Regions from separate parts of the Homo sapiens genome. Here regions 1 and 3 are each linked to region 2. Evidence: fine-mapped expression QTL. A gene starts in region 2. Each other region holds a variant in brackets. All regions are shown on one strand. Distances are from middle to middle.

The links. PIP is the estimated chance that this variant, and not a neighbour inherited with it, causes the effect.
Region 1: its variant is fine-mapped to the expression of PNPLA1 in whole blood (TOPMed, PIP 0.95).
Region 3: its variant is fine-mapped to the expression of PNPLA1 in blood mononuclear cells (TOPMed, PIP 0.90).

What each region holds. Positions count from the first base shown.
Region 1 is chr6:36,306,698-36,309,197 of GRCh38, reverse strand. It overlaps PNPLA1 (patatin like domain 1, omega-hydroxyceramide transacylase), which reads right to left. Exons shown (of 9, transcript NM_001374623.1): 8 at 1,486-1,611. Among named protein-coding and RNA genes, the nearest start is that of BNIP5, 29 kb to the left of the region's middle. The variant A/G (reference allele first, on the strand shown) is at 1,517.
Region 2 is chr6:36,268,397-36,271,220 of GRCh38, reverse strand. PNPLA1 (patatin like domain 1, omega-hydroxyceramide transacylase) reads right to left here and starts at 1,161. Exons shown (of 9, transcript NM_001374623.1): 1 at 557-1,161. The coding sequence starts at 761. RefSeq lists an enhancer at 2,467-2,824.
Region 3 is chr6:36,297,038-36,299,537 of GRCh38, reverse strand. All of the region lies in intron 5 of PNPLA1 (patatin like domain 1, omega-hydroxyceramide transacylase), which reads right to left. Among named protein-coding and RNA genes, the nearest start is that of PNPLA1, 28 kb to the right of the region's middle. The variant TA/A (reference allele first, on the strand shown) is at 1,109.

The DNA.
Region 1 (2,500 bases), 38 kb before region 2:
AATCTCCGCTACCATACTGCTTCCCACCACTCATCAAGTGCATTGCTTAGACTTCGAGATGAGCCTTTGGCCGCCGGGTGAGCCTCTGACCCTTGTCTGTCTGATAAATCCCTGTGCCCATCCAGGGACCCCACTTGGGACAAGAACAACCAGGAAGGATGTTGCTCAGAATGATTAGAGGTTTTTCTGACCAACAAAGACTTGAAGCAAATTATATAGCAGTGCAGGTCTGTTCCATTCAGAGAATACTATGTTGCCCAGCCCAGACTCCAACTCCTGGGCTCAAGCAATCCTCCTGCCTCAGCCTCCCGAATAGCTGGGACTACCGGCACATGTCAACATGCCTGGCCAATTCAGAAAATACTTTGATAACCCAATGAAATAACTGTAAATAATACCCGACTTGGTTTGAATCTGAGGCTCTCATTTTGAATTTGCGAGTCTGTTTGTATACATGCATGGGGCTTTACTTAAAATATGATGACTCGGTAAAAAAATTAAAACTTGGTTTAGGTGGGACTCAAAGTTCATCAGATTCTTAGGTTTTAGTCTTATCTTTGATCTAAAGTTAGACTAGGAGTAAACTGTTGAAACTTGGGGATAGAGTTTTAATTCATTTTTTATTTTGCCAGAGTCCAGGAGAGTGTTTGGCACTTAGTAGGTGCTCAATAAGTGTTGACTGACTAAGTCAAAGACAGCATAATATAGTCAAAAAGCTATAAGAAGCAGGCCTACATTGACTAGGGCCCTTAACTGTATGCTGGCAACATTTGAGTGTCACGTAGGCACTCACTTGTCTAGTTTTGTTTTGTTTTTTTTCGAGATGGGGTTTCGCTCTTGTTGCCCGGGCTGGAGTGCAATGGCGCAGTCTTGGTGCACTGCAACCTCTGCCTCCTGGGTTCAAGCGATTCTCTTGCCTCAGCCTCCCGAGTAGCTGAGATTACAGGTGCACACCATCAAGCCTGGTTAATTTTTGTATTTTTAGTAGAGATGGAGTTTCACCATGTTGGTCAGGCTGTTCTTGAACTCCTGACCTCAGGTTTTCCACCTACCTCAGCCTCCCAAAGTGCTGGGATTACAGGCATGAGCCACCATGCCTGGCCTGTCCAGTTTTGTATTTAAGTAGCATAAATACAAACATAATATGTAAACATAATACCTACTTATTGTGAGCTATTACACATTCTGCATTCTATGAAGCAATTTACATCATCGATCACATTTAACTCTCACAACTTTATGAAGTGGTATCATCCCCATTTTACAGGAAATGGAGGCTCAGGGAGAGCAAGTGTCCCAACCATGATCCCTGAGTGGAGCTGTGGCAGAGCAGGAATTTTATGTCGGATGTGTCTGTTCCAAAGCCCAATCTCCCACTGCACCCCCTACTCCCTTACACTCTCCTCTATTCCTCGGAATCTCTCTGAACACAGTTCCCAAAGCTGCTCCTCTCCGTGGGATTTAAGGAACATTAGACATGCTCACTGCACTTTGCTGCTTGGTTTTTTGGATCCCG[A/G]ATGTCTTGGGAAGCCTTTTCTGGTGCCACTTGTCTTTTGCTTGTTCTTCTTGAAGACCTTATTCACCCAGTTTGAGTCTTCAGCAGGGCTCTCCCTAGGCAAAGAGATTAAGTAGATGGTTCATTATGGGCCTGACCTCGGTCCTCCAACATGGTGGCCTGCTCAGCTCCGCAGGTGGACACACCCGCGCTGTGGTTCTCAACCCTGGCTGAGGATTGGATTTCCCAGCAAACTTTTTTTAAAATATAATCAATGAATATTTATCTAAGTAACATCATGCCCATGAGTCAAATGAAACTCCGACTTTTATAGAGTTATATGTAAATGCAAAAAAGTTTAAATTATGTGAACAAAATGCATAACTTATGCCTAAGCTCAAAATTGTTAAATTTATACAAACTCTTTCAAAAAGTTTTATGGTTAAAATTATACTTAATGTGGGAAGCAGGTAAATTTTAATATGCTTGATGTGAGAGAGAGTGCAAACATTAAAAGCAGGAATGCCTCAGGCCCTGCTCTCTCAATACCTGCAGCTGTGGTCATGGAGAAACCCAGCTACTGCCAGAGTGGTCCCAAGGCAGGGAGGGATGAGAGGGGGGCTGGGGTTGTGGGGAGAAATACCCTTGACCCAACTTCTGATCTCCTGCTGTGCCTCCCCCACCACCAGTACAAACGGCATTCAGCCAGCAAGGGAGCCTGGGTAATGTGGTCCTCAGGGAAGTTTTTAAAAAAGCAGATCCCCAGGTCCTCTCATAGTTATTGCAAAGATATAATGGAGTGTATGTTATGCAACCCAGACACTTGATGTGCATAATAAAAAAGATTTTCTGGGGACAGTCTACAGTCTAGTACTATCAGGTCATTATCATGCTAATAGAAAATAGTTCGGAGTAAGGAAGGCCTTTGATAGAGACCCTTAATTCATTTCATGCAGGAGCTACCTAAGGCTGGGAGGTAGGATGCCTGCAGGCCCTCTTGGAACT
Region 2 (2,824 bases):
ATTCTCTCCCCACCCCTTCCTATTCTTCTCCCACTCTGGGCTCCCTCCTGTCTACCCCTCCAGCCTCAGGGCGTTCATCTTTCCAGCCACCTGGAAATGGTGGACAATACGTCCCCATCAGGGTGATAGAGATTTGAAGAGTTGCCTCTCCCAAGGGTATTTGCATTTTGAAAGAGGCCAGGCAGGAGCAACACTGAACCCCAATGTATGACTGTGCCGTGGTGTAGCTTCTGACAGCACCATGTTCGATGTTCGAGGGAGATACTGTCCTTTACTCTCCCAGGCACTGGGAGACAGAGCATCTCACAGGTAAGGGCACTGAGGGAGAGGGACAGGGGTCCAGGCTCACCCTGCATGTTAGAGTCTGGGGCCTGGCAGACCCCAACCTTCAAACGTCACAGCTGCCGCTATCCTACTCCAACCAGCTCTTCCCTTCCCTTCCTGCCACCCAGGCCTGGCTTTGTCCCCCAAAGCATCCCCAGCCTCCCTCACGCTCCTTCTGTCTCTGTGGAATCCCCCAAGAGACTTCCCAGGGGACCCAGAACACAGGCCTCACCCATTTCAATCCCGCAGATGGCCAGGGCGGCGATCACAGCACCTGCCGATGTCCCCGCAAAGCGGTGGGCTGTTTCCAGCATCCGGGGGGCCAGGTCCCGCAGGGCGTCCACAGCCCCCGCCTGGTAGAAGGAGAGGAATCCACTGCCCGAGAAGGAGATGGAGTGAGGGGTGTCCGGGTCCCCCTTGAACACCTGTTCTTCCATCTCCTCGGCCTCTGACTTTCTGCGGAAGGCGGAGCCACCCTTCAGCACTTGCCTGCCCGAGCCTGGGCTGCCGCTCCCTGTAGGAACTCCCTACCCAGCTTCCCTGCCACCCCGGAGCTTGGAATGTGGCTGTCTCTACCCGGCTGGAGCAACCACAGGCTGCTCAGGAAGCTGCCTCAGCCTGTTAAGCTCCGCCAGGAGGCAACTCCAAAGGTTGGAAAGGGGCCCCAGAATGAGATGCAGAAGGCTCCCCCGGTGTGTGAGCAGGGTCTTGGTCCTGTGAGCCCCCCACTGGCTTCATTTCTTGGCTAGATTCATCTCGGGCACGGGATCCTCAGCCCTCTGCCCATCCATGGTATACCAGGGCGCATTCACTGCTCCCCAGCACAGGGCCATGCCCAAGGAGGCGGGCTCTGCCCAGCCCTCAGCTGCAACATTCAGTTGCAAAACCTCCGTGATGGTTATCGGTGTACACCTCCCTCCCCAACATGCTGCTGCGGCCGTGAAGGGCTTCCAAGCCCGCCTCCCTCCAGGAGGACGGTGCCTACCCCATCTCTTTTGGACGGGTCCCCCAAAAGAGATGCCCCTCCTGGGCTCCTTCAGGCTATGTGGTATGTGTGATGTGTTACACAAGCATTTTTATTTGTTTTTCTTACATAAACACCCCTTTGTTTATTCACTTGTTTATTTACATGTTAGCATTGGCCCTGGGTAAAATTTTAAGAGAAGTGTGACTTTGGCGGCCCCACCCACCACCGCCTCTGCACCTCTCTCTGTTTCTTCTCCTGGGCCCTTCACTGACCCTGTGACCTTGGTCAGTGCCCTCTCGACAAGCCCCAAGCCCTCATGCTATCTTCTAAGTGTGCAGGAAGAAATCAACCTGAAATCTAGATCATTCTAAGTGTGTGAGGCTTCGTGTTGCGTGTTCTTCTTCCCGCTCAGAAATGAGAAGTTTGAGATAGCAATGTTTAACCCCAAGGAGGAGCAGCTGGGGAGGTCACCTGTGGGGACGTCGGGGTCAGGGCAGAGAGACGTTTTGGTAAGGGAGGTGGTGTGAGAGGACCAGGGTTAGCTCCAGGGGCTGCGGTTCTGCCCCCTGAGGGGCTGTATCATGTGGTCCTGATGGGGAGGAGTGGTTCTCACACCCACAAAATGTCCCCTCATGGAGATATAACAAAGAAGGCAAGATGGCGTCTCCCGCTCCCCTCAAAGACCACACAGCAACAGGACCAGAATCAGAATCAAGACACCAAGGCCTCCACCAAGTGCCAATCCAGGATGTGACATCAGTGGCTTCCCCGCTTCTGGGGAGCTTGCACCATTCTGGTGGACTCACTTATCTGCATGGGAATTCCACAGTGAGGGCAAGGCCAGGCTTCAGTTAGGAGGGAGTTTTCTGTCTTGGGTAGGTAATTCCAGGCATATCATTGCCTCAGGTTGAAAAGAGAGCTTTAGATTAGATAAAGTGTGTGTGCGTACATGCGTGTGTATGCATGTGTGCATGTGTGTGCAGATATCTGAGGCATACTGCTGGGGTGGGGGCGGGTGTGTCAGGGTGGAGTCCAGTCAGCTTTTGGACAGCAGAGACCCTGCCCCCTTCCTGGGAGGTGAGGTCAGCTCCACTGAGGGCTTGTGTGCCAAGCCCTGTGCTGTGTCGGGGCCCTGGGGGACAGGAGCACACAGAAGCTCCATCCCCAAATCAGATATTTGCAGGCTTCTTGGGAACAAGACAGGCAAATGTGAAATAAGCAGAAAACTGTACAAGGCAATCTATAATTAAGTACTAAACTGTGCAGGGCTGAGATTCCTGCCAGAAAAGTTAGGAGGCGGGGCTGAGCAGTGTGGGCTGGAACATCTGAGGAGCTGTGCGGCGGAGGTGTGGGCTGCGGGACTGGAGGCAGCTGGGAGGAGCAGGCAGGCACTGGTCGAGGAGCAGCAAGAGCCCCTTGCAGAGAAGGGAAGGGGTGTAATGGGACCTGTTTCACAGGATGAAGGGCTTTGGATGAGAACCCTTCTGAGTCATGACATTGGATCCCAACTCTGCTATTTACAGGCAGTGTGAC
Region 3 (2,500 bases), 28 kb before region 2:
ATGGCGAAACCCCGTCTCTACTAAAAATGCAAAAAATTAGCTGGGCGTGGTAGCGGGCGCCTGTAGTCCCAGCTACTCGGGAGACTGAGGCAGGAGAATGGTGTGAACCCAGGAGGTGGAGCTTGCAGTGAGCCGAGATCATGCCACTGCACTCCAGCCTGGGTGACAGAGCGAGACTCCATCTCAAAAAAAAAAAAAAAAACAGACAAAAAAACAAAAAAAACCCCAAAAGTTTTGGAGGAATGGGAACGCTCATCCACTGCTGGTGGGAATGAAACATGGTACAACTGCTTTGGAAAACAATTTGGCAGTTTATTAAAAAGTCAAACATATATTCTGGTTATATATCCAAAATAATTGAATAGGATCTGGAAGAGACATCCATGGGCACTGCAGCATTATCCACAATAGCCGAAAGATGGAAGCAACTCCAGTGTCCTTTGTCAGATGGATGGACAAAGAACATGTGGAATATATTCAGCTCTAAAAAGGAAGAAAATCGGCCAGGCGCGGTGGCTCACCCCAGTAATCCCAGCACTTTGGGAGGCCGAGGCAGGCAGATCACGAGGTGAGGAGATCGAGACCATCCTGGCCAACATGGTGAAACCCTGTCTCTACTAAAAATACAAAAATTAGCTGGACGTGGTGGCGTGTGCCTGTAGTCTCAGGTACTCAGGAGGCTGAGGCGGGAGAATCGCTTGAACCCAGGTGGCAGAGGTTGCAGTGAGCTGAGATCACACCACCACACTCTAGCCTGGACAACAGAGCGAGACTCCGTCTCAAAAAAGGAAGAAAATCCTGTCACATGCTACAGCTACAACATGGATGAACCTTGAGGCCATTATGTTAAGTTAAATAAGCCAGTCACAAAAAGACAAATACCGCATGATTCCATTTATATGAAGTACCTAGTGTAGTCAAAATCATCAGCACAGAAAGTGGGATGGTGGTTGCTGGGGGCTGGAGGAGGAGAAAAGGGGGAGTTGTTGATCAATGTGTGTAAAGGCTCAGTTTTGCAAGATGAAAAAGTTCTAGAGATCTGCTGCACAACAATATGAAATAGTTAACACTACTGAACTGTGTGCTTAAAATTTGTTACGTGTTTTTT[TA/A]CCACAATTAAAATATTTGTGTATGTATGTTAAACATGAATGTACCATGCAATCCCGTCATTCCATTTCTAGGTATTTACCCAAGAGAAATGAAAGCATATGTCCACACCAAGACTCATGCGTGAGTGTTCATAGCAGCTTTATCCATAATAGCCCAAATCTGAAAATAACCTAAATGTCCATCAACAGGGGACTGGGTAAATGGGCTGTGGTATATGCATACAGTGGTATATTCAACTCTTTTGGTAGATGAGCTGTGGTACATTCATACAGTGGCACGGAACGTAAAAAGGAACAAACTATTTATACATTCAACAACATGGATGAATCTCAGAATAATTATGCAGAGTGAAAGAATTCAGATTTTTAAAAAAGAGTTCACATTGTAGTGAATTAATCTATAATGGCAGAAAGCAGATCAGGGGTTGCTTGGGAATGGCGGGGGGTGAGGGAAGGTGGGAGGGATCACGAAAGGGCATGAGGAAATTTTGGGGATGACGAATTATTCACTAACTTAATTGTGGTGATGGTTTCACAGGGTGTGTGTGTGTGTGTGTGTGTGTACAGAGAGACAGAGTCACTTACCAAACTGTGAGAGGGAAGAAGGGAGTGGGGGAGGAGGGCGGAAGAGAGGTTTGGCCAGGCATGCCTGAATGCCGGATGGATATTTTAGACATGGCATCCTCTGAGCTCCAACCTCACTCAGCACCCACATTCACACATCTGTGTGGGGAATGCGGATTTTCAAGCACGCCAGCCTGCGCTGCCATTCCCTTTGGCAGAAGGCCGCTGCAAGGATGGGCCGAGTGTAGACAGAGTGGCTTGCCTGGCAGCAAGAATAATTAATTCTCCTCCCTTGGGAGGGAGGAGAAAGAGGCTGTGAGAATGTGAGCTGAGGAATGGAGGGTGACACCTTTTGGGGTGTAGTTTCCTGCTGGAGGTGACCCCTACCCAGAAAGCAGCCCAGGGGAGGCTGGGCGGACTCCCATTTTCTGTTCCCAGATGGCAGGTGGGGATAAGAGTGTGGCTCTGGAGACCAACTGCAGTTTCTCAGTATGTGTCAGTAGTTCCTGTTCACATCTGATGCAGAGAGAAAAATCCAGTCCCACCAAATCCAAGAGGACTGAGGTGGTGGAGGTGAAATCTGCGCTGAGAAACCCGTGCCATACACTGGCAAATCGGAAGAGGAAGCAAAAATAGCTGGTAGTCAGCACGAGACCATTTCTCCTTTAGGAGTTGTATCTGTTCCTACTTGGAGTGATTCCAGGGCCATTGAAGAAGCCTGCCCCCATCCATATACTGGCTCAATTTTGGGGACAGATTCCTGAAGTGCCACCATCAGATTTCACCCAGCAGTAGGCGGGACTGACTGTGGCTAGGACTCAGCACTT